Linked DNA regions of Homo sapiens. The protein of the gene in region 1 interacts with the protein of each later gene in a biochemical or structural test. Each region holds a gene or a part of one and is shown in the gene's direction. Other genes may lie near its edges.

Evidence for each region.
Region 2: the proteins of HECTD3 (region 1) and CASP9 form a complex in vitro, tested with the Homo sapiens proteins (one study listed by BioGRID).
Region 3: the proteins of HECTD3 (region 1) and RAF1 form a complex in vitro, tested with the Homo sapiens proteins (one study listed by BioGRID).
Region 4: the proteins of HECTD3 (region 1) and UBE2S form a complex in vitro, tested with the Homo sapiens proteins (one study listed by BioGRID).
Region 5: the proteins of HECTD3 (region 1) and UBE2D2 form a complex in vitro, tested with the Homo sapiens proteins (3 studies listed by BioGRID).
Region 6: of the proteins of HECTD3 (region 1) and CHUK, one has a biochemical effect on the other in vitro, tested with the Homo sapiens proteins (one study listed by BioGRID).
Region 7: the proteins of HECTD3 (region 1) and PARP1 form a complex in vitro, tested with the Homo sapiens proteins (one study listed by BioGRID).

Annotation. Positions count from the first base shown.
Region 1 is NC_000001.11:45,004,599-45,008,487, reverse strand, and holds part of HECTD3 (E3 ubiquitin-protein ligase HECTD3), read left to right. Parts: intron 1-166; coding exon 167-248; intron 249-892; coding exon 893-1,075; intron 1,076-1,216; coding exon 1,217-1,269; intron 1,270-1,472; coding exon 1,473-1,537; intron 1,538-1,692; coding exon 1,693-1,796; intron 1,797-2,371; coding exon 2,372-2,491; intron 2,492-2,604; coding exon 2,605-2,694; intron 2,695-3,681; coding exon 3,682-3,888; intron 3,889-3,889. UniProt on the Homo sapiens protein: E3 ubiquitin ligases accepts ubiquitin from an E2 ubiquitin-conjugating enzyme in the form of a thioester and then directly transfers the ubiquitin to targeted substrates.
Region 2 is NC_000001.11:15,492,640-15,496,890, reverse strand, and holds part of CASP9 (caspase-9 isoform alpha precursor), read left to right. Parts: intron 1-1,438; coding exon 1,439-1,618; intron 1,619-2,889; coding exon 2,890-2,999; coding exon of another isoform or gene 3,000-3,107; exon of another isoform or gene 3,108-3,855; coding exon 3,856-3,948; 3' UTR 3,949-4,251. UniProt on the Homo sapiens protein: Involved in the activation cascade of caspases responsible for apoptosis execution. Binding of caspase-9 to Apaf-1 leads to activation of the protease which then cleaves and activates effector caspases caspase-3 (CASP3) or caspase-7 (CASP7).
Region 3 is NC_000003.12:12,587,303-12,591,553, reverse strand, and holds part of RAF1 (RAF proto-oncogene serine/threonine-protein kinase), read left to right. Parts: intron 1-579; coding exon 580-756; intron 757-3,916; coding exon 3,917-3,963; intron 3,964-4,251. UniProt on the Homo sapiens protein: Serine/threonine-protein kinase that acts as a regulatory link between the membrane-associated Ras GTPases and the MAPK/ERK cascade, and this critical regulatory link functions as a switch determining cell fate decisions including proliferation, differentiation, apoptosis, survival and oncogenic transformation.
Region 4 is NC_000019.10:55,401,636-55,405,158, reverse strand, and holds part of UBE2S (ubiquitin-conjugating enzyme E2 S), read left to right. Parts: intron 1-680; coding exon 681-871; intron 872-1,011; coding exon of another isoform or gene 1,012-1,158; exon of another isoform or gene 1,159-1,196; intron 1,197-1,816; exon of another isoform or gene 1,817-2,027; coding exon of another isoform or gene 2,028-2,216; intron 2,217-2,501; exon of another isoform or gene 2,502-2,569; intron 2,570-3,396; coding exon 3,397-3,523. Other genes in the region: RPL28 (large ribosomal subunit protein eL28), read right to left, coding at 2,028-2,216. UniProt on the Homo sapiens protein: Accepts ubiquitin from the E1 complex and catalyzes its covalent attachment to other proteins. Catalyzes 'Lys-11'-linked polyubiquitination.
Region 5 is NC_000005.10:139,619,767-139,624,017, forward strand, and holds part of UBE2D2 (ubiquitin-conjugating enzyme E2 D2), read left to right. Parts: intron 1-3,601; coding exon 3,602-3,695; intron 3,696-4,251.
Region 6 is NC_000010.11:100,187,214-100,191,761, reverse strand, and holds the end of CHUK (inhibitor of nuclear factor kappa-B kinase subunit alpha), read left to right. Parts: intron 1-793; coding exon 794-893; intron 894-2,134; coding exon 2,135-2,164; 3' UTR 2,165-2,253; coding exon of another isoform or gene 2,254-2,334; 3' UTR 2,335-3,462; downstream 3,463-4,548.
Region 7 is NC_000001.11:226,362,597-226,366,847, reverse strand, and holds part of PARP1 (poly [ADP-ribose] polymerase 1), read left to right. Parts: intron 1-795; coding exon 796-894; intron 895-1,693; coding exon 1,694-1,846; intron 1,847-2,777; coding exon 2,778-2,905; intron 2,906-3,687; coding exon 3,688-3,749; intron 3,750-4,251. UniProt on the Homo sapiens protein: Poly-ADP-ribosyltransferase that mediates poly-ADP-ribosylation of proteins and plays a key role in DNA repair.

The DNA of each region.
Region 1 (3,889 bases):
GCCTTGTGTGTCTGCATGGAGGAGGTTCCCAAGGTCTCATAGTATAAGCTGTTCAAGGGTCAGAGAAGCCCCCAGGTCCTGCCTTTTCCTGTCCCTTTATGTTGGGGAGTTGGGGGTGTTACAGGTATGCTAAACTCTTTAGCTGCAGTCTATCTACCCATGCCAGATTCATCAAGATCCTCGATAGTGTCCTGCACCACCTGGTACCTGCCTGGGACCACACACTGGGCACCTTCAGTGAGATTAAGGTGAGCCGACCCAGCCAGTGCTGGTCTTGGCATTTCCCCTTCCTGCTCACGTAGTTGTTCATTCCTTAGCAGAGTTCCTAAAATCTACTCTAGGGCAAGACCTTTGCTGGGTCTGGGAACATAGGAAGAAAGCCAGAACAAATGGTCCAAATTTAGTGTTTGGGAGGCTGTTCCCCAGCCTCCTTGGTATTCCAGAGTGTGTGGAATACCCAAGGGCTATTGACAGCACAGGCAGGGCAGTTTGCGTGAAAGGTACATACAGGGAGTTACCAGCAGCTCAAGATGTCTTGAGAAAAGTGTGCCAGTAGGTGTGAGTATGACAGAGGGATGAGGGTGGAAGGATGTGGGCAGGAGACAGGTCCTGGTTGCAGAGGGCCCTGTGGGCCAGGCTGTGAAGCAAGGACTTTGTCCCAGGGTAGTGGAGCTGTTGGAAAGGTAAGGAAGGTAATGACAGTATTAGATTTTTTTGTTTTAGAAAGCTCTCCCTGGTGGCTGAACTAAGGAGGGGACTGGAGACAAAGACAGGGATGGACTAGACTTGAACTGAAACGGTGGAATTGGATACAGGCAGAGGGGAAAGTTCCAGGGCCTGGACGGAGGCTGACTGCCCACTCATTCCTGCTCTGGCCACCTCTCCTCACTAGCAAGTGAAGCAGTTCCTACTGCTGTCCCGCCAGCGGCCAGGCCTGGTGGCTCAGTGCCTGCGTGACTCTGAGAGCAGCAAGCCCAGCTTCATGCCACGCCTATACATCAACCGCCGTCTTGCCATGGAACACCGTGCCTGCCCCTCTCGAGACCCTGCCTGCAAGAATGCAGTCTTCACCCAGGTCTGCACCACCTAGGGTCCGACTGAGATAGGATCAGTCAAGGGCCAAGGGGGCTAGGCCAAGAGGGACCTGAACAAGTTCTTGGGGCAAGTATAGGGCCAGGTCTTGCTTTCCTATGACTCCTTTCCTCCTTGCCTCCAGGTATATGAAGGCCTCAAGCCCTCTGACAAATATGAAAAGCCCCTGGACTACAGGTATGGCATGAGAGTGAGGGACTTACTCGGGACACCTGTTTGTGCACACAAACACACACAAACACACACACACACACACACACACACACACAACTGCTCGAGGCACCCCTCGCCATGACTGCTTTTCCCAGGTGGTCTCTGAGCTGATGAATTGTGCTGCACCTGGCCCCACATAATGACAAATCTGCCCACGTTTTTTGCAGGTGGCCCATGCGCTATGACCAGTGGTGGGAGTGTAAATTTATTGCAGAAGGCATCATTGACCAAGGTGAGGCCCTGAGGGAGGATCTCAAGGGTCCTGCTTGCTGCCCTATCAAAGTGGTAGAGGCTTTTCACCAGCTAATGATGATGGGGGACCTATTCATTACCCCATTATGGGAGCTGGGCTCTTGAGTGCCCAGCTGAGGGCATCTGTCATTTCAGGGGGTGGTTTCCGGGACAGCCTGGCAGATATGTCAGAAGAGCTGTGCCCTAGCTCAGCGGATACCCCCGTGCCCCTGCCCTTCTTTGTACGCACAGCCAACCAGGTAATCTCCGTTTCCATCTCTGCAAACCTCCCAGGTGCCAGATTGAGCTAGAAAGGGGGCAGAGGAGGGGGCCAGATTGAGCTAGAAAGGGGGCAGGCACAGTGGCTCACGCCTGTAATCCCAGCACTTTGGGAAGCCGAGGCGGGCAGATCACGAGGTCAGGAGTTCAAGACCAGCCTGGCCAATGAAGTGAAGCCCCATCTCTATAAAAATAAAAAATTAGCCGGGCGTGGTGGCACGCGCCTGTAGTCCCAGCTACATGGGAGGCTGAAGCAGGCGACTCGCTTGAACCCAGGAGACGGAGGTTGCAGTGAGCCGAGATCACGCCACTGCACTCCAGCCTGGGTGACACAGTGAGACTCTGTCTCAAAAAAAAAAAAAAATAGAAATAGGGCAGAGGAGGGACTGAGTTGCTCAGGGCAACCTCTGGGCAGACAGGGAGAGGAGGAGCCACTGTGCATTTGAAGGGATCATTTAGTGGAAAATGTTCCCAGTGGAAAATGTTCAGGGAAGTCTTTGGGCCAGGAAAATAGGGTGTATCTCATGCCACACTCACAGCTCTGTCTCTGGGGCAGGGCAATGGCACTGGTGAGGCTCGGGACATGTATGTACCCAACCCCTCCTGCCGAGACTTTGCCAAGTATGAATGGATCGGACAGCTGATGGGGGCTGCCCTTCGGGGTAAGGAGTTCCTGGTGAGTAGCCTTATCCACACCCCCGTCCGATCAGCCCTGGCCCTTGGAAGGAAAGGCCAGCCAAACCTGGGCAGCTCAGGGTGAGAAGACAGTGGGGAGTGTTTGTCACACAGGTCCTGGCCCTGCCTGGTTTTGTGTGGAAGCAGCTTTCTGGTGAGGAGGTGAGCTGGAGCAAGGACTTCCCAGCTGTGGACTCTGTGCTGGTGAGTAGGACCTGGAACCAGTGTTTCCTCTGCCCAGCCCCTAAAGGTTGGTCCTCCCTAAGGCTGTTCTGTACCTTGTTCTTTCACCACACACAAGATCCCTCTCCAATCCATCCACTCCCATGGCTTCAACTACTGTCTGTAGACTCGTGACCCCTAAAATCCTGACCTCTAGCCCCAGCCTCTCCTAAGCCTGGGGCCATATATGTATCTGTACCCTCGACGTTTGCCCCAAGATGGCATCTCAGGCTCAGTGTGTTCTTTATCTTCTCCGAAGACTACTCCCCTCTAGGGCTCCTGCCTCAGAAGGGCACCATGTCCCACTCCTCCCCATCCCAAAGCCCACAGGGCCATCCTTCACCCCTTCTTCTCCCTCGCCACCATATTCTTAAGTCTTCCTCTGTAATCTGTTTGCTTTTCCTGTCTCACTACTGTCTCCCTGCCTGGTTGAGGACACCTTTCCTCCTTAGCTAATCACTTACTAAAAAGCTGGTGTCCCTGTCTCCGTTCTTACCCGTTTGGTCTCCATGCAGCCACAGTAATTCATTTCACTCTCCTTATTTAAACTCATTGATGGCTCGGCCCTGGGCTTAGGATAGAATGCAGAATCTGTAAAGGCCTTACGTGAACCCTGTGTCTCCAGCCACTTGGTTCACATTCAGGCTCCAGCCACACAGTTTCCTTAGGCCTTTTGCTCTTTCCAGCTTTCTCCAAGATGTTCTCTCTCCTAACTTCCCTTATGTCCCAGCCATCATTTGGGTCTCAGCTGAGACACCATTTTCCACAGGATGCCTCCTCTGGCCTCCAAGGCTGGTTAGGTGTTGTCTTGATGCTTTTACAGCTCTTGTACTGACACCCTCATTCCCTGCTGCCTCCATGGGGACTGCCTTGCCTGGCTGTCTCTGCTTCCCTGTGAGCATCTTGTGGAAAGACAGGGACTATCTCCACAGTGAAAAGGTTACCTCCCTGCCTCTCTCCAACCCCTAGGTGAAGCTCCTGGAAGTGATGGAAGGAATGGACAAGGAGACGTTTGAGTTCAAGTTTGGGAAGGAACTAACATTCACCACTGTACTGAGTGACCAACAGGTGGTGGAGCTGATCCCTGGGGGTGCAGGCATCGTCGTGGGATATGGGGACCGTTCTCGTTTCATCCAACTGGTCCAGAAGGCACGGCTAGAGGAGAGCAAGGAGCAGG
Region 2 (4,251 bases), about 30 Mb from region 1:
GGCACATGCCACCACACCTGGCTAAATTTTTTATTATGTGTAGAGATGAGGTTTTGCTGGTCTGGAACTCCTGGGCTCAAGGGATCCTCCTGCCTCAGCCTCCCAAAGTGTTGAGATTACAGGCGTGAGCCATGGCATCCAGCCTTCTTTCTTTCAGCAATGTTTTGTAGTTTTCATTTTACAAGTCTTTCATCTTGGTTAAGTTAATTTCTAACTATTTTATTATTTTTGATGCTATTGTCAATGGAACCATTTTTGTAATTTCTTTTTCTGATTGTTCATTGTTAGTGTATAGAAATGGAAGTATTTTTTGTGGTTGGCTTCGTATCCTGCTAATATGCTAATTTTATTTGTTCTAATAGTGTTTCATCTTTAGGGTTTTCTGCATATAAAATCATACCATTTGTGAGTAGAGATAATTTTACTCCTTCTTTCCAATTTGAATGTCTTTTATTTCTTTTTCTTGCCTCCTTGCTCTATTAACTTCTAGTAATGTGTTGAATAGAAGTGGCAAAAGCAGAAATTCTTGCCTTCTTCCTGATCTTATAGAAAAAGGTTTCAGTCTTTCACCATTGAGTATAATGTTTGCTGTGGGTTTTTCATATATGGCTTTTACTATGTTGAGGTAGTTTCCTTCTATTCTGAGTTTGTTGACTGTTTTTATCATGAAAGCTTGTTGAATTTTGTCATGTGCTTTTTTCTGCATCAATTGAGATGATGATGTAGGGTTTTTTTCATTCTCTTATGAACCCCAAAAATCTGAGACAGGTCTCAGTCAATTTAAGAAGTTTCTTTTGCCAAAGTTAAGGATGCACGCCCAGGAGACAGGTCTATGCCTTTCTCTGAACATGAATTTTAGGGTTCCAAATTTAAAGGGGAAAGGGCAGGATATTGAGAAGTACACAGTTTTCAGGTAAGAGCAGGGTAGGGGGAAATAGTCATTCAAGCATTTGTCTGGCTCAGTGAATTTGCATTTTTACGTAAGGTAACATAGGGCAGGGGAAAATGCAGGGAACCTGCATTTTTACGTAAGATAACAAAGACAAATGGGGCAGGGGAATAATCAGATATGCATTTGTGCCAGGTGGGCAGAGGGGTGATGCCTCTGTAAAGATAAGCTATCCATTTACATTGCCGTGGTGAATTTTATCAGACAACTATCTTGGAGCTCACCAGGAATTTCCTTGTGGGCAAAATATGGGAGAGGTGTGTAGCTTTTCATCTTGTAGCCATCTTATTTAGGAACCAAAACGGGGAGGCAGGTTTGCGTGACCCAGTTCCCAGCTTGACTTTTCCGTTTGGCTTAATGAGTTTGGGGTCCCAAGATTTATTTTCCTTTCACACTGTTAATGTAGTATATTGCACCGACTTTCATATGTTGAACCATCCTTGTCTGTGTATTTCAATGACAAGAGGTGTTTGTTTCTGCTTCCTGCAGAGCAGAAAGACCATGGGTTTGAGGTGGCCTCCACTTCCCCTGAAGACGAGTCCCCTGGCAGTAACCCCGAGCCAGATGCCACCCCGTTCCAGGAAGGTTTGAGGACCTTCGACCAGCTGGACGCCATATCTAGTTTGCCCACACCCAGTGACATCTTTGTGTCCTACTCTACTTTCCCAGGTGAGCACATCAGAAGGGCTCGTCCTCGCAGCCAGTGGGTCTTCCCGTCTGCCCTAGAGGCAGCTGTGTGGTGAGAGAAAAGACCAGGGTATGAGTCCTGGTTCTGTCTTTTGCCCCTCTGTGACCCTGAGCAAGTTACTTCTCTCTGAGCCTCGGCTCAGGCTGAGCGGGCAAGGATGCGCGCTGCAAGGAGGCCTGCGCCCTTGGGTTCCTATGCCTCACTTGCCTCTCCTCTGCCTGACCCTGCCTCTGCCTTCGCATCTTTAGCAGGGGAATAGGAATCGTGCCTCAGGGGTTTCCATGGGAATTAAACAAGGTGGCTGGCACGTCACTGAGCACAGTGCGGGGCACGTAGTAGTTGCAGCAAGCGGTAGTTTCCTTCCTTCTTTTTTTTTTTTTTTTTTTTTTTTGAGATGGAATCTCGCTCTGTTGCCCAGGCTGGAGTGCAGTGGCGCGATCTTGGGTCACTGCAAGCTCTGCATCCCGGGTTCACACCATTCTCCTGCCTCAGCCTCCCAAGTAGCTGGGACTACAAGCACCTGCCACCACGCCTGGCTAATTTTTTGTATTTTTAGTAGAGATGGGGTTTCACCGTGTTAGCCACGATGGTCTCGATCTCCTGACCTCGTGATCCACCTGCCTCGGCTTCCCAAAGTGCTGGGATTACAGGCGTGAGCCACCGCGCCCAGCCTTTTTTTTTTTTTTTTTGAGACGGAGTCTTGCTTTGTCGCCCAGGCTGGAGTTCAGTAGCATGATCTCAGCTCACTGCAACCTCCACCTCCCGGGTTGAAGTAATTCTCCTGCCTTAGCCTCCTAAGTAGCTGGGATTACAGGCATGCATCACCACACCCAGCTAATTTTTGTATTTTTAGTAGACACAGGGTTTCACCATGTTGGCCAGGCTGGTCAAGAATTCCTGACCTCAAGTGATTTGCCCACCTCGGCCTTCCAAAATGCTGGGATTACAGGTGTGAGCCACTGTGCCTGGCAGTTTCCTTCCTTTCTTATGTCTTGGATGAGTCACTTGACTTTTCCAAGCCTTGGTTTCCTTGCTGGGAAAACAGGAATTATAGCCGGAATCAGGGGATGGTCATGAGGGTGAAATAAGATCATGATTAGGGCAGAGCCTCAGGGGCCAGGCTGCTCCTGTTGGATGTATGTATGAGTCAAGGTCTGGAGGGCGCCCGAGCCAGCGTGCATGGCCAGAGGGGTGGTGGGGAGCCGGCGGAGGGGTGGCTCTCCAGCAGTGTTCAGCCCTCCTCCCTCCAAAGGTTTTGTTTCCTGGAGGGACCCCAAGAGTGGCTCCTGGTACGTTGAGACCCTGGACGACATCTTTGAGCAGTGGGCTCACTCTGAAGACCTGCAGTCCCTCCTGCTTAGGGTGAGTGCTGCCTTCCTCTGCAAAGGAGAGGGGAGGCTGCTGAGGGGCAGCGTGTCCTCCTGGGGCTGGGGATTTGGGGTGAGCAGGGCAGGCCCAAACCAAGGGTAAAAGGTAGTAGACTCCTGCCTCTGAGCCTTGGAGTCGGCACTTTTGTGTCTCTTTATGAGAGGCATCCTGCCTGTGGTGACGTTTGCCCTTTATTCAAAGAGTTGCCTTCCCTGTCTCCTCCAAGGTCCCCAGGTTGACACCTCCCGCTCCTCCACTGATGGAGCTGGTCCTCAGTGCCAGCGCAGGATGGCTCTGTCCAGACCCTGAAGGCGGGTCATGGGCCCCTCCCTATATCCTGTGGGCATCATGTAGTCTTCTACTCTTGACCCTCAAGAATTGTGAACCCCTCCTTGTACATCGCCTTCTCAGGAGGCCCCAGTGAGGAAACAGATAGGGAAGGGTGGCCTGATAGGCCCAGTCCTACTCCATAGAAACCCGACTCAGAGCAGTTGCTTCCTCTGAGGGTCCTGTGGCCTTGTGGCTGCCTTGGGAGGCAGCATGTATGGGCCCCAGCTGCTCTGCTCAGGTATTCATGCCACGAGAAGGGGCTGCGAGGCTGGGGCCACTCCTGGCTCCTTGCAAATATTTCAGTCTGATTTGAACTTTATGAATTTGGAAATTTTGAATTTTGAGTTTTTTAAAGGTAAAGTTGAGGTGCGTATTCTTTAAGCCCTCCTGCTCAAAGAGGCTGCAGTTTGAGCTGTTTTTAAGGTGCGGGTTGAGTGGACATTCCCCCCAGCCCCTCTTGAATTCTTCCTTCAGTCCAGAGAACTGAACTCACAGAGCTCTCCATGGTCATGTCTTACAGGTCGCTAATGCTGTTTCGGTGAAAGGGATTTATAAACAGATGCCTGGTTGCTTTAATTTCCTCCGGAAAAAACTTTTCTTTAAAACATCATAAGGCCAGGGCCCCTCACCCTGCCTTATCTTGCACCCCAAAGCTTTCCTGCCCCAGGCCTGAAAGAGGCTGAGGCCTGGACTTTCCTGCAACTCAAGGACTTTGCAGCCGGCACAGGGTCTGCTCTTTCTCTGCCAGTGACAGACAGGCTCTTAGCAGCTTCCAGATTGACGACAAGTGCTGAACAGTGGAGGAAGAGGGACAGATGAATGCCGTGGATTGCACGTGGCCTCTTGAGCAGTGGCTGGTCCAGGGCTAGTGACTTGTGTCCCATGATCCCTGTGTTGTCTCTAGAGCAGGGATTAA
Region 3 (4,251 bases), on another chromosome or scaffold:
AAGGGATGTTTCCTTTAGTTTATGTGGTTGTCAAGCCTTTCGAAGAGCCCCTTTTTAGGAGAATACCCTCCTCTGGGCACAGTAAACTCAATAGCCCAATTTCTGTCTCTGGGTTTTGGTTTGAGGTGGGCAGAAATAGGCCCTATTTTTACCTTTATTTCCCAGAACCCTTTTTTTTATAGCTGAGTTGCCTTATTTTAGACTTCAGAACAGTCAGCTTTCCAATCTTTCAGTCACTATTTAGACTTGTAGGAATAAGTCATATAATGGAGACTTCTACAAGGAGTCCTTGTGACCTCCACAGGAGGGTCATGGAGTGTACATTGATGAAAGAGAATGTCCTCTCTGTAAGCAAGGCTGGCACTGAACTGATGGCCCAGTGAACTAATGGTGGGCTTCTCTTTGCTCAGAATGCCACCCGGGTTATCAGCCGTGCCATGTGTTTGTTTTTGGGACTGGGGGTGGTGTTGGGACTGGGGGTGGTGTCGACAGCACAGAACCCACTGTCCACGGGAAAGCACAGTAGACCTCCCTGAGCACTTTCCTCCTCCCTCTCCTCTCTTCCCCTCCCCTCCCCAGCAAAACACGGCATGTGAACATTCTGCTTTTCATGGGGTACATGACAAAGGACAACCTGGCAATTGTGACCCAGTGGTGCGAGGGCAGCAGCCTCTACAAACACCTGCATGTCCAGGAGACCAAGTTTCAGATGTTCCAGCTAATTGACATTGCCCGGCAGACGGCTCAGGGAATGGAGTGAGTAGATGGTCTGATGCCTCTCTGGGACCCAGGCATCAAATTTGTCCCTAAATTGGAACCAGGATCAGGAAAAGCCTTCTAGTCCATTAAGCGATTCTGTGATATCTTTGCACAAGCCTCTGGCCTGGGCTGGAGGGGCCAATTATCAGGAATGAGTTGTTCAGGTTCCAGCTGGGTGGGGTGGCTCACACCTGTAATCCCAGCACTTTGGGAGGCCAAGGCCAGTGGATCACTTGAGGCCAGTAGTTTTGAGACCAGCCTTGCCAATATGGCAAAACCCTGTTTCTACTGAAAATACAAGAATGAACCAAGTCTGGTGGCACATGCCTATAATCCCAGCTACTCAAGAACTGGGACAGGGAGAATCGCTTGAACATTGGAAAGCAGAGGTTGCGGGGAGCTTAGATCACGTTACTGCACTCCAACCTTGGCTGCAGAAGCGAGACTCTGTCTCAAAAAAAAAAAAAGAGAAGTTCAGGTTCCTCCTTGGGACTGAACTTCCCCCTTGGGGCTCAGCTTTGGGCTCTGCCTGCTACCCTGGCTTTATCAGAAACCTGAGAATATAGTGGGGTGCATGTACCTTCTGCTTGGACAGCTGTGGCAATGCCTTCTGCTCAGCTGTCTGAGGCATGGCTGTCCCACATGAGGGTTTAAGCAGATGTTGTTTTTGGGATAATTTTTTTTTTTTAATTAAAAACTTTTTCCTGGCCAGGCACGGTGGCTCATGCCCATAATCCCAGCACTTTGGGAGGCTGAGGCGGGTGGATGACGAGGCCAGGAGTTCGAAACCAGCCTGGCCAATGTGGTGAAATCTCATCTCTACTAAAAATACAAAAATTAGCTGGTTGTGGTGGCAGGCGCTTGTAATCCCAGCTACTCGGGAGGCTGAGGCAGAAGAATCACTTCAACCCGGGAGGCGGAGGTTGCAGTGAGTGGAGATTGTGCCATTGCACTCTAGCCTGGGTGACAGAGCCAGACTCCATCTGAAAAAAAAAAAAAAACCCAAAAAAACCACACTTTTTTCCTTAGAGACACAGGTTCTCACTCTGTCACCTATGCTAGAGTGCAGCGGCGCAATCATAGCTCACTGCATCCTTGAACTCCTGGGCTCCAGCTATCCTCTTGGCTCAGTCTCATAGGTTGCTGGGACTGCAGGCACATGCTACCGTGCCCAGCTAATTTTCGTGTATTTTGTAGAGTCGGAGGTCTCACTATGTTGCCCAGGCTGGTCTCAAACTGGACTCAAGTGATCCTCCCACCTTTCCTGGCTAGCCTAGGGTAGTGCTTCTCAAACTTCTCCTCTGAAGTAGAGGAGCTCCTCGTACCCCTAGACATCTGGGAGTTACTAAGCTATAGCTGTGCTTGCAAGTCCTACATAAATTCTCACACTGTCTTTAAAATTCATATGGAAGTTGCCTTCTGTGTATTTTAAGAAATGGAATGACTTTTCAGAAAAATTGAGATATAATTCATACATCATAAAATTCCCCCTTTTAAAATGTACACCTACCTCAGTGTTTTTCTGGTATTGAGTTGTGCAGCCACCACCACTATCTAATTTTAGAACATTTTCATTATCCCGGAAAGAAACACATGCCCATTGTATTAGTCTGTTTGGGTTGCTCTAAAGGAAGACCTAAGGGTGGGTAATTTATAAAGAAAAGAGGTTTATTTGACTCGGGGTTCTGCAGACTGTACAAAAAGCATGACACCAGCATCTGTGTCTGGTGAGGCCCTCAGGAAGCTTTCACTCATGGCAGAAGGCAAGGGGAGCCACGTGTGATGTGGTGAGAGAAAGGAGCAAGAGAGAGAGCATGGAGGGAGGTCCCAGACTCTTTAATAACCAGGTTTCATGTGAGCTAATAGTGTGTGAACTCACTCGTTACTGCAGGGAGGCCACCGAGCCGTTTGTGAGGAATCCATCCCCATGACCCAAACACCTGCCACTTAGGTCCCACCTCCAACACTGGGGATCACATTTCAACTTGAGATTTGGAGTGGACAGATATCCAAACAATATACCCATTAGAGGTTACCCAATACCTCCCACCCACTTGCAGTCTACTTTCTGTTTCTATGGATTTTGCCTACTTTATAGTTCAATATAAATGGAATCATGTAAGATATAATATAGTCAGGTAACATATAATGATGTTTCGGTCAATGACCACATATAGGAAGGTGGTCCCACAAGATTATAATACTGTATTTTTACTGTGCCTTTTCTATGTTTGGCTATGTTTAGAGACACAAATACTCACCATGTTACAACCAGCTACAGTATTCAGTACACTGAGGGCCATACAGTTTTGTAGCCTAAGTGCAACACGTTATACCATTTAGCCAGGGTGTGTAGAAGGCTGTACCTTCTTGGTTTGTGTGAATACACTTTATGATGTGTGCATGATGACAAGTTGGCTAACAACACATTTCTCAGAAGGTATCCCTGCCGTTAAGTGATGCTTGGCTGTATATAATACATAAGATATGGTATTGTGTGCCTGGGCTCTTAGACCTAGCATAGTATTTTCAAGGTTAATGTGTAGCATGAGTCACTACTTCATTCCTTTCTGTGTCTGAGTAACATTCCATTGTATGGATATGCCACATTATTCATTCATCATTTATGGACATTGGGTTATCAGAATTACTTTAGAGTAAAACTGATGCTTGAAGAAGTGTCAGCAATGGTCAGGCGCCAGGGGCCCATGCCTGTAATCCAAGCATTTTGGAGGCCAACATGGGAGGATCACTTGAGCCCAGGAGTCAAGACCAGCTTGGGCAACAGTGCAAGACCCTGTATCTACCCAAAAAAAAAAAAAAAAAAAAAAAGGCGGCATGGTGGCACATGCCTGTGGTCCCGGCTACTGGGAGGTGGGAGGATCACTTGAGCCCAGGAGGTTAAGGCTGCAGTAAGCTATTGACTGCACTCCAGTCTCCAAAAAAAAAAAAAAAAAGGTGTAAGCATGTTTGTGCTGTGGCCTCACCTTCAGGTAAGCAGTGATGTGAACCAGGCTGAACAGCACAGGGTCTATCCCTGTGTGTAACACTCCTTGGAGCCAGGCCTTCAGTGGCTTTACTTCTTAGCTGTAGTTTAAAACTGCTTTCTACTCATGCCCCTCAAACTTATTTTTAATAATTTCTTTTCCCTTCACAGCTATTTGCATGCAAAGAACATCATCCATAGAGACATGAAATCCAACAGTATCCTTTGGTTGTTGAGTTCATTTGACTGCTCGGTTCTAAATTTAGGGAAACAGAAGGGAGGCTTTCTATCACAAGTGGCTCTCGGTGCCAGGGGATATCTTTTTAAGGAAAGAGGCAGAGGACAGGAAAACAGAAAAGTCAGAAAATTAGTAGGCTTGGCCTGTCCCTCAGCAGCTTATGCCTCACCTGGACTGATGAGAGCGATGTTTAGGTTAGGTTCCTTTCTGAGTTTATCTCAGCAAAAGTGATTTGGAGAGATTTCCGTAAGCTTGAAATAGGCATAAT
Region 4 (3,523 bases), on another chromosome or scaffold:
CGCACACTGCAACCTCCCCATCCCGGGTTCAAGGGATTCTTCTGCCTCAGCCTTCCGAGTAGCTGGGATTACAGGCATGCACCACCACGCCTGGCTAATATTGTATTTTTAGTAGAGACGGGGTTTCTCCATGTTGGTCTGGCTGGTCTTGAACTCCTGACCTCAGGTGATCCACCCGCCTTAGCCTCCCAAAGTGCTGGGATTACAGGCGTGAGCCACCACACCTGGCCTCTTGCTCTTAAGAATTCTACAGCCTGACTGGGCATGGTGGTTCACGCCTGTAATCCCAGCACTTTGGGAGGCTGAGGTGAACAAATTGCTTGAGCCTAGGAGTGCAAGACCAGCTTGGGCAACATAGTGAGACCCTATCTCTTAAAATAAAAAAGTAGCCAGACCTGGTGGCATGCCCGTAATCCCAGCTACTTGGCAGGCTGAGATGGGATCACCTGAGCCCAGGAATTGCAGGCGGCAGTGAACTGAGATTGTGCCACTGCACTCCAGCCTGGGTGACACAAGAGACCTTATTTCAAAAAAAGAAAAAAAGAATCCTCCAGTCTGTTGGCAGAGTTGGCGGGGCACCCACCTGCATCACAATCAGACCGTGGAGACTGGACTTTGGGGTGTTGAGGTGCCTTGGGACTCCTGAGTGCCCTGACCCTGTACCCCTCCCTCCACTCCAGAGGGGACCCCATATGCTGGAGGTCTGTTCCGCATGAAACTCCTGCTGGGGAAGGACTTCCCTGCCTCCCCACCCAAGGGCTACTTCCTGACCAAGATCTTCCACCCGAACGTGGGCGCCAATGGCGAGATCTGCGTCAACGTGCTCAAGAGGGACTGGACGGCTGAGCTGGGCATCCGACACGTACTGCTGGTGAGTTCTGGGCTGGGGCTGGGCCTCCTGCCTCCTGCCTCTGGAGGTCTGCTGGTGTCTGAGCCATAGCGCTTTGTTTAGTTTTTCTGAATCAACTCTGAAGTGGTTGAAGGTTTCCACATAAAAATCCATGTTGCTAGCTTTCCTGGAAAGACAAACAGTGCCAGACCCAGGACACCCAAGTACTGTTGAGAAGTGCCCAGGAGCACCTTACTATGCAACGAGTGGTGAGTTTGTATTGTAGGATGGTTTTTCTCTTCTCCCTTTTTTTTAAAAAACAAGGATAGGGTAGGCCAGGTGTGGTGGATCACTTGAGCTCAGGAGTTCGAGACCAGCCTGGCCAACATGGTGAAACCCTGTCTCTACTAAAAATGCAAAAATTAGCCGGGCATGGTGGCACATGCCTGTAATCCCAGCTACTTGGGAGGCTGAGGCAGGAGAATCGCTTGAGCCTGGGAGGCAGAGGTTGCAGTGAGCCGAGATCGCGCCACTGCACTCCAGCCTGGGTGACAGAGTGAGACTCTATCTCAAAAAAAAAAAAAAAATAAGATAAAAAATAAAACAGGAATGGGGTCTCATTTGTTGCCCAGGCTGGTGTCAAACTCCTGAACTCAAGTGATCCTCCCACCTCGGCCTCCCAAAGTGCTGGGCTTATAGGAGCCAGCCACTGCGCCTACCCTGTAGGACAGTTTTCTGACAGGTGGAGGTCAAGGGTCTAGTTAGAAGCTCTTTCTTTCTTTTCTTTCTTCTTTCTTTCCTTTTTCTTTCTTCCCTTTCTTTCCTTTCTTTCTTTTTGTTTTAAAGATACTGGCTCTTTGTTGCCCAGGCTGGAGTGCAGTGGCGCAGTCATAGCTCACTGTAGCCTTGAACTCCTGGGCTCAGGTGATCTTCCTGCCTCAGCTTCCTGAATGGCTGGTATTACACGCATGCACCACCATACCCAGCTAGTTTTTATATTTTTATGGTTTGCAGAGATGGGGTCTCATTAGAGGCTTTTTTGCTAAAGCTGAGCTTACATGCCGTAAAACTCAGTTCCAAAGTATACAGTTCAGTGGTTTTTTAATAGCGATAGGGTTCATAAACCAGTGTTTCTCAGCCAGAGGTGATTTTGCCCCCCAAGGGGTATTATGCATTGTCAGGAGACCAGAAAGGGTTGTCACAACTCGGGGGTGCCACTAGCATCTAGTGGGTGGAGGCCAAGGGTGCTGCCCAAATCCTGCAGCGTACGAGATGGCTCCATGACACAGAATGACCTGGCTGCGGTGTTGCTGAGGTGGAGGCGTCCTGGTCTAGGCTGGTGCTCCAGGCTGCTTACAGCCTGCTGCCTCCCAACCCTTCCCGCAAGCTGAAAAAAAAAAAAGTTAACCAAATTTCTAATGAGTCCCTGGGGCACATGGCAGAGAGGGTGGGGAATTGGGGTTTCCTGCCATGGGGAGGGAGAGGATTGAGCTCCAAGGTAAACAGACCCCAAACCCTTCCCTCCCACATGTACCGCCTCCCTTCCCCTGGGGTGTCATTGGAGGCTGCTGGGGACATTGGCACCGAGCTCCAGGCCTACTTGCTGCTAGGTCAGCATCTGGGCCTGTCAGGGGCTCAGCCAGCAAGAAGAGCAGCCAGACCTGCAGTTTGGGTGCAGTGATGAGAATTAGGGTGGGAACCTGTGTCCTGGTCACCATCAGTGATATCTGCTGAGCATCTGCTGAGCCAGGTACTGTGTATGTGTCATAGTGGCCCCAGGGAGCAAACTGCTGTGGCCAGTTTGCCCAGACCCACTTCAGAGGATCCAGCTGGGGCTGCTGGAGGCCTGGCTGCAGGTCACACCTCTGCACTCCAATTTACCCCTCAGGACGGGCTGTGAAGGGGGTTGAGAGGAATCTCTGGACCACCCTCGAAGTGCACCTCAGCCAGCAGTCCTGGTGTCTTGCCCTCTTGTGTGTGGTCCAACCCAGCTAGAGTCTTAGGCTGTGAACTTCGGATGTCTGATAAAAGACAGAGGTCAGGATTTATGCTGTATCTGGAAAGATGGGGAGCTTTAGAGTCCAACACGCAGGTGTGATTTCCTCAAATCCTGAGGCCCTGGGGAAGTCTCTTCTCTCTGTCCAGGCTGCAGGCCTCACTCGTTGAACCAGAGGGCCTCTAAGGTCATGCTGAACTGCATGGAGGCAAATTCAAAACCATAATAGGACTCAAGTCTGGGGCTCAGGCAAGTAATGGACTCCTGAGAGGGGGCCTTGGCGTTTCCCCCGTTACCCAGCAAGTTCCACGGAGGACCAGGGACATTTTAAACCATTGGGCCTATGGCATCGTGTCCTTTTGGGAACATCTGCTGTGAGGCAGGTCACATGAAGGTGGCCTCTGAGGGAGACAGGAGCAAAGATGAGGGAGGATGCAGCATAGGTGGGGCCTGGATCTGCAGCTGAGTTGGGAGCAGAAGGAACAGCCAGTGCGGAGGCCACCCTCTTGTGGAGGCCTGGGGGTCCCTGTAGGTTGCCCGACCCACTGTGACCCTGAGCCTCTTCCCACAGACCATCAAGTGCCTGCTGATCCACCCTAACCCCGAGTCTGCACTCAACGAGGAGGCGGGCCGCCTGCTCTTGGAGAACTACGAGGAGTATGCGGCTCGGGCCCGTCTGCTCACAGAGATCCACGGGG
Region 5 (4,251 bases), on another chromosome or scaffold:
GCGGGAGAATCGCTTGAACCCGGGAGGCGGAGGTTGCAGGAAGCTGGGATCGCGCCATTGCACTCCAGCCTGGGCAACAAGAGTGAAACTCCGTCTCAAAAAAAAAGGAGGTTTAATTGGCTCACAGTTCTGTGGGCTATACAGAAAGCATGGCAGCATCTGCTTCTGCGGAGTCCTCGGGAGCTTTTACTCATGGCAGAAGGCAAAGGGGGAGCCACCTGTCTCACATGGCAGTAGCAGGACCAAGAGAGAGATGGGGGAGGTGCCACACACTGTTAAACAGCCAGATCTCATGAGAACTCTATCACAAGAACAGCACCAAAGGGGTCGTGCTAAACCATTCATGAAGGATACACCCCCATAATCCAGTCGCCTCCCACCAGGCCCCACCTCCAACGTTGGGGATTACAGTTGAACATGAGATTTGTGTGGGGACACAGATCCAAACCATATCAGTATATTAGAAACCAAAATGAATTCTTCATGAAATCAAGAAGCTAAGTAGTGTACTAAAAATCTTTTCACAAGGTCCAGATAGCCAGTACTCTCCTTTCCTGGAAAGAAAGAAAAGCCCTTTCTTTAAAACCTGTCCTTTAAAGTTGACTTATTAGAATATTTAGAAGAATAAGTTAAAGGAACATTCAAAAATTTCTAACTTCCCTGTTGTCATTTCCAGGAAATACATGAAGTCTTTCCTAATTGATGTTAGAATGTTCTATGCTTGAAGAGGGCTTCAGGTGATGACACCTGACAATAGGAAAATGTTTTTGGAATGCCAGCTGCCAGAATTGTGGGTAACAGGAATGAAGAGTCAGAAAACATCTCTCCTGATTTTTTAAAAAAACTTTTCATATACTCTTAAGGCAAGGAAATAGCATTTTTGTTACCAAACTGAATAGGGCATGCCAACTATTTCTTTACTTCTCAGAAGCCCTTGATCTCTATAGGATAGATTTGGTAGGAATATGAGCGAATCCTTTCCCTGCTGAATTTATGTGTTGGGAGTAAAATGGGCTGAGAGTTATTATCTCTTGGTACAGAACACCTATTAGAGAAAAGAAAGATGGCTGAGCTCTATTAGCATTAGTATAGAAGGATTTAAATTTATTTTGTCAGAGGCTACTGAACTTAATGTAATCAGTGACTTTATGCCCCCTTTGCATTCAGTAAGGAATGCATAAGTTAATGATAGATATGGCCGGGTGTGGTAGTTCACGCCTGTAATCCCAGCACTTCGGGAGGCCGAGGCAGGTGGATCACTTGAGCCTAGGAGATCAAGACTAGCCTGGCCAACATGGCAAAACCCAACCTCTACAAAAAATACAAAGAAAATTAGCTACACATGGTGGCACTCACCTGTAGTCTTACCTGGAGAGTGAGGTGGGAGGATGACTTGAGCCCAGGAGGTTTAGGCTGCAATGAGCCAAGATCATGCCACTGCACTCCAGCCTGGGCGACAGAGTGAGACCCTGTCTCTAAATAAATACATACATAAATAAATAAATATTTTAAAACATAAGTTAATGACAGATTTGAACAAAGGAAATTACACTATTGAGATTTGTCTGCTACATCCCAGGTTGTCACCGAGGAAATGGCTTAGATGAGATTCTAAATTGTCACTGAAGAGAATTTGAGACATTCATAGAAGTATGTTGTATTCTCTGTAATGAGTGTATGACCATCCCCATTTAGGGGCAAGTGTTTGCATTTATGTTCTTGATTTAGACTGAATTGTTTTCAACTGAAAATTAAACAAAACAATTGTCTGAATGTGGTGCCTGCCACTGGAAAACAGTGATTGTTGGATTTTATGGTTGTCGTTTTTGCTAAGAATATTCAGTAGTGTGGCTGTCTTTTTTTTTTTTCTTTTTGAGGCAGGGTCTCACTCTGTCACCCAGATTGGAGTGCAGTGGTGTGAACACAGCTCAATACAGCCTTAACCTCTTGGGCGTAAGTGATCCTCCCACCTCAGCCTCCTGAGTAGCTGGGACCATAGGAGTGTGCCACCACATCCAGCTAATATTTTTATTTTTTGTAGAGACAGAATCTCACTCTGTTGCCTAGGCTGGTCTCAGACTCTTGGCCTGAAGCGATCCTTCTGCTGTGGCCTCCCAAAGTGCTGTGATTACAGGAGTGAGCCATCGCACTTGGAATTTTGAAAGCCATTTATCCTTGAATATGGGCTTCTAAAAAATTGAACTTTATGGGATCTGAAAAATGTTCTTGGTCTAGAATTTAGACAAAGTTCTAATTCTATTCTAATTACTAGCCAGGGACATTGAACACGTCACTGCACCTGTCTGGGCCAGCTCCCTTAGGAGTTCAGGCATAAAGACAGTCATATCAACTCTTCTTACATCATGGGATTGTTGTGAGACTTTGCACAAAGGGGCTTATATTTGTATCTGGGAGACCAAGATGTCATTTAACATTAATTTTCTGCTATTTGTTTTATTTTATTTTTTATTTTTTATTATAATTATTATTTTTTGGAGATGGATTTTTTGCTGTGTCGCCCAGGCTGGAGTGCAATGCTACGATCTCGGCTCACTGCAACCTCCACCTCCCAGGTTCAAGCGATTCTCCAGCCTCAGCCTCCTGAGTAGCTGGGACTACAGGCACACACCACCACGCCCAGCTAATTTTTGTATTTTTAGTAGAGATGGGGTTTTACCATGTTGGCCAGGATGGTCTCAATCTCTTGATCTCGTGATCCACCCCCCTCCGCCTCCCAAAGTGCTGGGATTACAGGCATGAGCCACTGCAGCCAGCCTTCATTTTTATTTTTTAATGACCTAACCTAAAGTCTGTTTAAGCTTCTTAAAATCCTTGTTGGTAGGCTGGGTGCAGTGGCTCACGCCTGTAATCCCAGCACTTTGGGAGGCCAAGGTGGGCGGATCACGAGGTCAGGAGATCGAGACCATCCTGGCTAACACGGTGAAACCCCCGTCTCTACTAAAAATACAAAAAATTAGCCGGGCGTGGTGGCGGGTGCCTGTAGTCCCAGCTACTCAGGAGGCTGAAGCAGGAGAATGGTGTGAACCTGAGAGGCGGAGCTTGCAGTGAGCCTAGACCGCGCCGCGCCACTGCACTCCAGTCTGGGCGACAGAGCCAGACTCCGTCTCAAAAAATAAAAAATAAAAAAAACTATTTGCCAGGTGTGGTGGCTCACGCTTGTAATCCCAGCACTTTGGGAGGCCGAGGCGGGTGAATCACGAGGTCAGGAGTTCCAGACCAGCCTGACCAACATGGCGAAACCCCATCTCTACTAAAAATACAAAAATTAGGCCAGGCATGGTGGTTCAAGCCTGTAATCCCAGGACTTTGGGAGGCCGAGGTGGGTGGATCACCTGAGGTCAGGAGTTCGAGACCAGCCTGGCCAACATGGTGAAACCCCAATTCTGCTAAAAAAAAAAGAAATAATAATAATAATAATAATCCTTGTTGGTTACTGTTAATATAAAGTTAAGTAAAACTTACAAAGCTGCTAGGCATTACAGTATAAATTCTTAGAATTTTCTCATGTTTTGGCGTCTCATGTTTCTCTCAACCCTTTGCTTTGATCCTCTGCTAATTTATATGATTTTTTTCATTCTAGTACTCTTGTCCATCTGTTCTCTGTTGTGTGATCCCAATCCAGATGATCCTTTAGTGCCTGAGATTGCTCGGATCTACAAAACAGATAGAGAAAAGTAAGTATGGCCTCAAGATGGAAAGTTATCTGTGGTGGGATGGAGATGTTTGTCACAAATCTTTCTTGTTTAAGGGCTGAATATCGGCCAGATATTTAAAGTGAAGTCCTAATATACTCTCCTGGGGCTAGAAAAGAGAAATATATGCATTGAGTATTATTATAAGTAGATGATGCCAGTCTTATCCCTGATTGTTTCACGTGACTCCTCTTGTCTACAAAAACTTTTTTTTTTGTTTGTTTTTTTTTGAGACAGGGTCTTACTCTGTCACCCAGGCTAGAGTGCAATGGTGCAGTCTTGGCTCACTGCAACCTCCGCCTCCTGGGTTCAAGTGATTCTCATGCCTCAGCCTCCCGAGTAGATGGGATTACAGGCGCAGGCCACCACGCCAGGTTCGTTTTTTTTGTAGTTTTAGTAGAGACTTTTACCATGTTGGCCAGGCTGGTTTCGAACTCCTGACCTCAAATGATCTGCCTGCCTAGGCCTCCCAAAGTGCTGGGATTACAGGTGTGAGCCACCACACCCATACAAAAACTTTCCTATGGTATATTTTTCA
Region 6 (4,548 bases), on another chromosome or scaffold:
TTTGACCATAATTTTTCCATCTGTTGGATAAGAGCTGAATCAGAATGTCATTCTAAGCTAATAGTGGCTATCATCCATGACCTAAAACGGACTCTTGTTAGGGGACTGAAGATTGGCAAAGGGAGAAGCTAGAGGCCATATAGAAGAGGAAAGCATGAAGGTAGAAACCACAATCAGGACTGCCTTCAAATATGAACTTCCAGGGATACTTCTTGGTTCTGGGTAGCTCCCCCACCACACTGTTTTCTTTTGCTGTCCTCAGGAATCAGCTTGCTTGTTTCGTTTCATTGCTATCATCTGTAGTTTCTAATGAGTTTTTCACTTTCTGTGATCTCTACAGAACAGATTTTACTTTTCTCTCTTCTCCCCTACATTTGTGTCTGTGAAGTATGCATGCTGGTGTTTTTACTACTTTTAAGGAAAGAGAAGTATTTAGAAACAAAAACGTATTTCATCTGTCTTTGCCACAAGGATTTTTTCCTCCCTAGTTACATTTTCACGGGAAAAACAAGTTGTACATAAGTGCATCTTACATTTCAGAGGAAAGTCAGACTGGAGTTATAGTGGACTTCTTATCATTAGTTAGGTAGAGGTAGAGGCAGCAGCCTGGTCTTAACAGGACTCTGCCTCTGTAGGGAGGGATGAGGAAACTAAAGACTACAGGAGTCAACTGCACTGGGGTACTGGGTTACAGGAAGGCTAGTGATCTTGCTAACCTAGAAGACTAGAAAGTAGAGGAAATTCATATGCCCTTTTCCTGAGTTTGAAAAGGCTTTGTTCTTTCATCTCACAGGGAGACTTCAGCACAAATGATAGAAGAAAATTTGAACTGCCTTGGCCATTTAAGCACTATTATTCATGAGGCAAATGAGGAACAGGGCAATAGTATGATGGTAAGTTTTGTGTGGATATGGGTGCCTGCTTTGGCTATGTTGGGTGCAAAAGGTTTAACTTTCCATGCTAGCCTTATCTGGCATTTGGGATGCATATGGGAAATAGAAGAACTCAAGAGGAAAGAGCATTTGGGGAATATCCTCAACCTTAAATCCTTATCTGCCGTTACTCAGGGATATACTAGGATTATGTCATCAATTATCTTCAATAATAGCATTTTTGGTCAAATTAAATGAGTGGTAAGCTTCTTCACAATGTGACCATTGAAATTGAATGGTTTGTTCTGTACCTTTTTGCTTCAGCAATCAATTTTCTCCATTAAGATGGGACTTGTACTTTAATTCAGATATGGTACCTCCCGAATAGAAAATAAATTATGTTAATATAGTTGTAATAATAAGTGTGTGTTAAGATTTGGTTACTATAAACTACTGATTTGTTAAAACTTGAGGAAATTACCATAAAATGTCTACTGAATCAATTTTTCCTGCATTTAGTCTTAATGTCAATTCTGTACATTTCCTCTTTCATTAAGAAAAATAGCAGTGGCCAGGCATGGTGGCTCACGCCTGTAATCCTAGCACTTTGGGAGGCCAAGGCAGGTGGATTGCTTGAGCCCAGGAGTTTGAGACTAGCCTGGCCAACATGGGAAACCCTGTCTTTATAAAAAATATAAAAATTGGCCAGGTGTGGTGGCACACACCTGTGGTCCCAGCTACTTGGGAGGCTGAGGCAGGAAGATCGCTTGAGTTCAAGAGTTTCAGGCTGCAGTGAGCCGTAATCCTGCCATTGCACTCCAGCCTGTGACAGAGTGAGACTTTGTCTCGGGGAAAAAAAAAAAAAAAAAGGATAATGGTGGCCAGCCATATGACATGTACCTGTAGTCCGAGTTACTAGGGAGGCTGAGGCAGAAGGATTGCATGAGCCCAGGAGTTCAAGGCTGCAGTGCATTATGATTGGACTTGTGAATAGCCACTGTACTCCAGCTTGGCAACATAGCAAGATCCTGCTCTCTTAAGAAAAAAAAAAAAAAGAAAAGAAAAGGAAAGAATAATTGTTTACTTCAAATATTTATGAAAAAAACTCTGAAATTTTTTTAAATCAGGAAATAAGGTAAATGAAATGATTTTTCAACTTTTGATTATGAAATGTCCAAACAGAAAACTTGCAAAAATGAACACCCATATACTTATAACTTATAGTCAACATCTAATTGTAACTTTTTCATGCCTGGTTTTAGAATCTTGATTGGAGTTGGTTAACAGAATGAGTTGTCACTTGTTCACTGTCCCCAAACCTATGGAAGTTGTTGCTATACATGTTGGAAATGTGTTTTTCCCCCATGAAACCATTCTTCAGACATCAGTCAATGGAAGAAATGGCTATGAACAGAAACTACATTTCTACTATGATCAGAAGAACATGATTTTACAAGTATAACAGTTTTGAGTAATTCAAGCCTCTAAACAGACAGGAATTTAGAAAAAGTCAATGTACTTGTTTGAATATTTGTTTTAATACCACAGCTATTTAGAAGCATCATCACGACACATTTGCCTTCAGTCTTGGTAAAACATTACTTATTTAACTGATTAAAAATACCTTCTATGTATTAGTGTCAACTTTTAACTTTTGGGCGTAAGACCAAATGTAGTTTTGTATACAGAGAAGAAAACCTCAAGTAATAGGCATTTTAAGTAAAAGTCTACCTGTGTTTTTTTCTAAAAAGGCTGCTCACAAGTTCTATTTCTTGAAGAATAAATTCTACCTCCTTGTGTTGCACTGAACAGGTTCTCTTCCTGGCATCATAAGGAGTTGGTGTAATCATTTTAAATTCCACTGAAAATTTAACAGTATCCCCTTCTCATCGAAGGGATTGTGTATCTGTGCTTCTAATATTAGTTGGCTTTCATAAATCATGTTGTTGTGTGTATATGTATTTAAGATGTACATTTAATAATATCAAAGAGAAGATGCCTGTTAATTTATAATGTATTTGAAAATTACATGTTTTTTCATTTGTAAAAATGAGTCATTTGTTTAAACAATCTTTCATGTCTTGTCATACAAATTTATAAAGGTCTGCACTCCTTTATCTGTAATTGTAATTCCAAAATCCAAAAAGCTCTGAAAACAAGGTTTCCATAAGCTTGGTGACAAAATTCATTTGCTTGCAATCTAATCTGAACTGACCTTGAATCTTTTTATCCCATTTAGTGTGAATATTCCTTTATTTTGCTGCTTGATGATGAGAGGGAGGGCTGCTGCCACAGACTGTGGTGAGGGCTGGTTAATGTAGTATGGTATATGCACAAAACTACTTTTCTAAAATCTAAAATTTCATAATTCTGAAACAACTTGCCCCAAGGGTTTCAGAGAAAGGACTGTGGACCTCTATCATCTGCTAAGTAATTTAGAAGATATTATTTGTCTTAAAAAATGTGAAATGCTTTTATATTCTAATAGTTTTTCACTTTGTGTATTAAATGGTTTTTAAATTACTTTCTTGATCTCTATTCATTATAAAAATCAGATTATAATAAAACAGTTGAATATGGCTTAGGAAAATATGAAGGTTCCATGAAGTGGAATTAAGAGCATAGAATAACTGTACTTTCCTTAGGAATAATAGGACTTATGGTAAAGGTAGTATTGGGCAACTTCTTTAAGAGTGTTTTCCTCTGAGATGTCCTATCACCACTATCTACATCTAAAAAACATGCTCGATTCTTGCCCTATAAACTGATGTCACAGCCCCACCATCCCCATTTTTGCTAGTGGTATCATTTTCCTAGTCAACCAAATTTTTTAGTCATCACATATCACTGTTCGTCATCTATTATAATAGGCAGTCTCTCTCTTGTTTCCCTGGTTTTAGAAGATTTTAGTAATAAACATTTATTGGGTACCTGTTACTTGGAGGGTATTAAGCTAGATGGCAAGATCTGAAACAACATAGGCAGTATAGTAAAAGTGCTTATCTGGGAGTCTGAACATTACAAGCCATCCAAGCATTGCAATTATTGTTAAGGATTATTTTCAATGGTCATGCATTTTCTAATATTTTAATAATTGGTTAAAGATTTGTTATAGCGTGGGGGCCGCTGCTGGTGTGTGGCTGGGGTTATGTCAGGGCAGCCTGATCTATATAATTTGGGCAGATGGTGTGAGTCAGAACAGACTATTATAGTGGGATCCCCAAACTTGCTTTTGATGCATGAGTTGGACCACTATTTTTTGGTGGGTAACAACTTTTCAGAGGGGAATGGCAGTTGTGAATTGTATACATTTCATTCTTTAAGCAATATTATGAAAAACTTCAGAGAATGTCTACAGAAAACAGGGTATGGAGCAAGTTATTTTCCATTCTTTTTGCTTTTTGGAAGTTAAAATAGCTAAGCTCTGCAAATATCATTTATTTGGAACAGATAAGGTCCCAGACATTCCTAGATAATAAAAATCAAATGAATGATACAGGTAAGTGTATTTATTGAAGGGTGTGGGTAGAGTGGTCTGGGAAGTCTTGCTTTAATGAAGACGGATTGATTCTATTTACCTCTTCTTACTTCCACTACTAAGTAACCCTGGGCCTGCAGTTTCCTAACCACTTGACTTCCTTGCCAACAGTCTGTCTCCACTTTCAGCCGTTTTATA
Region 7 (4,251 bases), about 180 Mb from region 1:
GGCGAGAGTATGTTGAGTCTGGTACCAGGTGTTTACATCGCTAAAGAAAGAGCCTTGGCTTCTTTCCTAGGACAAAGTATAGACCTATGGGTCCAAGCAGGGTAAGACACCACATGTCATTTGTTTTGCCCCTAGAGCACCTTCCTGATGGGAAAACTGTAGGTGTGGTTCTTCGTGAAGGGATTCTTATTCTCTTTTTACAATTCTGAAGCCTTTTAATTAAAAGACAGGGAGGTAGACCAGCATTCTAGGTTTTCTGAAGTTTGAATATAAATATGAAAATAAAACATAACTAGTCTCCTCCGTAATACTCAGGCTTACTGAGCATAGATTACATCAGCTATTTGACAGATGCTTGTTAGGCCTGTGCTCTGAGCCAGGGATAATTTTCATTGCACATCATAGCTGTGACTTCCTCTGGCCCATTGTGTTTTAACTCATGCTGAGCTGGACTCTCTTCCAGGAGCCAATTGCTTGTTCTGGAGATGCCCTGTTCACTGACAGTGAATCCCACATTCTAGCTTCCCTGATATCCCAAAACATAGAATTTTAAGACAAAAAGGAACCCTGAGATTCTCTAGCAGCCCAAGTAGATGAAGAGGTGGAGGCTTAGGTAAGTGGAGCCACTGGCCCAGGATCTGCCCAGCCCACAGGCCTGGGACACAGGCTCTCGGTCATGCCCGGCTTCCTTTGAGGAGTGTGGTGTTGAGCTATGCATTGACTGAGCCTGAGCATTCCTCCTCTGTAGCTCTCCTGGGTCTCTTTTGTGCTAATCCCAAGATTCTGTTTATCCAGGTGGTTGACAGAGATTCTGAAGAAGCCGAGATCATCAGGAAGTATGTTAAGAACACTCATGCAACCACACACAATGCGTATGACTTGGAAGTCATCGATGTAAGAATCCCTTCTTCCCCCACTTCCTTCTGTGTCCTGCCAGCTCTTCCCTGCCCACTCCTCCAACCTGGGCCTGGGTAGAAAAGAGCAGTTTATTTACTTTAAATAACCCAAAGAAGTGACTCATTTGTTCAGCAGAAAAATTAGTAGTTTTTTTTTTGTTTGTTTGTTTTTTGTTTTTTTTTTTGACATGGAGTCTCACTCTATCACCCAGGCTGGAGTGCAGTGGTGCAATCCCGGCCTGCTGCAGCCTCTGCCTCCTGGGTTCAAGTGATTCTCCTGTCTCAGCCTCCAGAGTAGCTGGGATTACAGGCGTGAGCCACCACACTCTGCTAATTTTTGTATTTTTAGTAGAGATAGGGATTCACTATGTTGGCCAGGCTGGTCTTGAACTCCTGACCTCAGATGATCCGCCTGCGTTGGCCTCCCAAAGTGCTGGGATTATAAAATTAGCAGTCTTATACAGTAGTTTGGGGATGGCTTTTTATTCTGTTTTAAAGGACATTTCCTGTCCCCAAACCTGGTCTCAGAACATAGATTATCAGATGTCCAAGATAAAGTTCCTCAAGTGCACATCTGCTGCACAGTAATACTAACCAGCAATGGCTGGGCGCTGCTGGGCAGGACCTGGACCTTCCATCCCAGCCTTGTGGAAAACACTTTTTACATTGCAGCAGACCTTAAGTCTTCTAGCCTTAGGGACAGCCGGTCATTTCTCGTGTATCCAGTCCTGTCTTTCAGTCAACCAGAGTAACAAATGGCTTCTTTTGTCCTTCCCTTTGTTTACTACTCCAACCAGATCTTTAAGATAGAGCGTGAAGGCGAATGCCAGCGTTACAAGCCCTTTAAGCAGCTTCATAACCGAAGATTGCTGTGGCACGGGTCCAGGACCACCAACTTTGCTGGGATCCTGTCCCAGGGTCTTCGGATAGCCCCGCCTGAAGCGCCCGTGGTATGTGCCTGGCCTGGCGAGGGGTGGGCAATGCCTGTCTCTGCAGGTGTCTCCATAAAGAACTTTGAGCAAGAGGTCTAGTTGGTTTAGGGGGATTCTGCCAGACATCCTTTCTTTGGGCCTTCACCCTTTTATCCTCCTGACCCTAACCCTGTCAGGGGTTTCAAACACAGTTTCTGGAACAAAGGAGGCAGAGCATCCAGGCCAGGGCCTGCTGCAGATGCTAATCGGGTGTGTTGACAAGCAAAGAACAGACACGTGGCTACAGGCCAAGCTGAGTCCAGGCTTATCTCTACCACTTCCCAGCCGGGCCACCTCTGAGTGTCAGTGTCTTCAGCAGGAAAACGTAGCGATGAATGAGTAAGGCTTTACCTAGACACGAGGGATCGTGATGCCACCTGCTGGATTCTAGATGGGTCCACCTGGACAGGACCTTCTAAGCCTCTTGTTTCACAGTTGTAGAATGAGGAGGAGAGAAGTTTAAATGATTCTCTCTGGGGCTGTGCAGTAGTGTATAACGGGCAAATGGCCTACCCTTTGTGAACCTCGTGTTTCATTTACAAAAGGGAATAAAAATACCAGCCTGCATTCCTTGGGTGTTGACAGGCGCTAGTTTAAGTAACACTGATGAGCTCATTCCGTCCTCATGGCAGCTCCATGAGACTGTGTTCCCCATTTGAGAAAAGAGGCAAGTAGAGTCCAGAGAGGTTACGTAGCTTCTTGCAGCTCCTTGGCACCTGGCAGAGCTAGGATCTGACAGCCTGGCTTGTGAGCTAAAACTTTGGTATTTCCTCACCATGGGCATTGTGAGAATTAGAAGTGATGGATTGCAGCACTTAGCTGGGTGGCTTGCTCAAGTTGGCACTCAGTGAACAGCTGCTCCTAATTTCCCATCAGAAGATTCTCAGCTCTCCCTTTTCCGACCTTCCAGACAGGCTACATGTTTGGTAAAGGGATCTATTTCGCTGACATGGTCTCCAAGAGTGCCAACTACTGCCATACGTCTCAGGGAGACCCAATAGGCTTAATCCTGTTGGGAGAAGTTGCCCTTGGAAACATGTGAGTAAACCTGGCTCTGGGACTGATGGCATTTCATGGGGACAGGTGGAATGGGCTATAGGCAGAACTCCCCTTGGCTGGGAGAGTAGAAATTCCCCACTGCAGTTACTGGACGCACCAATTAGGATTCTTTTCTTATAAGTAGCAGAATCCAATTCAAGTTAAGGGAACAAGGGAGATACAAGGATACTTCAGGAAATGCAAGGGCAGGAACGCAGCCAGGCCTCCAGAGCTGGCAGTGTCTTCTCTCCATGGACTGGGAAGCAGAGAGATTGAGTTGCACAAAGGATGATCCCCCAGGCCGCCTCCTCCACTCACCAGTGTTTCAGTTTTCTTAGACCAACCCAAATGGAACTGGAATTTTAATTCCACTTCCAGATTCTCCATAGAGAAAGATCTGATTAGTCCAGCTTGATTTGGACATCGACCCTAGTCCTGTGAACTGTAACCAAAAGCACAAGGTCATGTAAAAGGCCAGGGGTCTGGGGACTGTGGAATGTGGACGGAAACCTAGAGCTGCTGACCACCACTCCAAATAGGGCCTTGCCTTGAAAATGGCCCCATAGCAGTGATCGCTGGGCACAAACTATGTTCAGCCGCAACTGCAGTTTCAGGTTCTGGAACAGTTCCAGAAACTCAGGAGGGAGCCTGAGCAGTTTAGATGGTCTGGGTTTTGTGGACTTTTATCTCATCTCTGTATCTGATCTTATTCTCCTAATCAAACTGTTGGTTTCGAGAGCCCAGTGTGAAGGCCTCTTCTGAGACTGTCCTCTTTTGAATAGGTATGAACTGAAGCACGCTTCACATATCAGCAAGTTACCCAAGGGCAAGCACAGTGTCAAAGGTAAAGTGTTTCCAAAGCTGTTGCTACAGCCCGAGGCACCCTGGACAGCACAGAAGCCGGGGGCTTGCTGTCCTGAGAAGGCTGCCTTGTGGCTGGCTGTCAAACAGCTGGAGATTCATTTTATCTTTTCGAGGGGTGTGTGTGCGTTGTTGTTGTTGTTTGGGGGGTGGTGGTGGTGGTTAATATGCTGCAACTGACCATGATTGGAGGTTCATTTTATTTATTTTTGTAAAAAAAAAAAAAAAATAGGCAAGCTCTATAGCAGGAGGTTCATTTTTAAAAACAGTTCACTCTCTGTGGCTGCAGCTGGTATCACAGATGCCACAGGAGAATCTTGGTGCAGGCACCAGTAACCAGATGCACGGGTTTCGGCTTTAACCTAACTTGTAGCTACAGCAGTGAGGGACCTCTCGTGACATAGTAGTGCCTGGAGCATCTTGGATTGCTAGAATTTGCAGCATATGATTTAGAACCTTCCACTGCCTGGTTGAAGTGGCCGCTT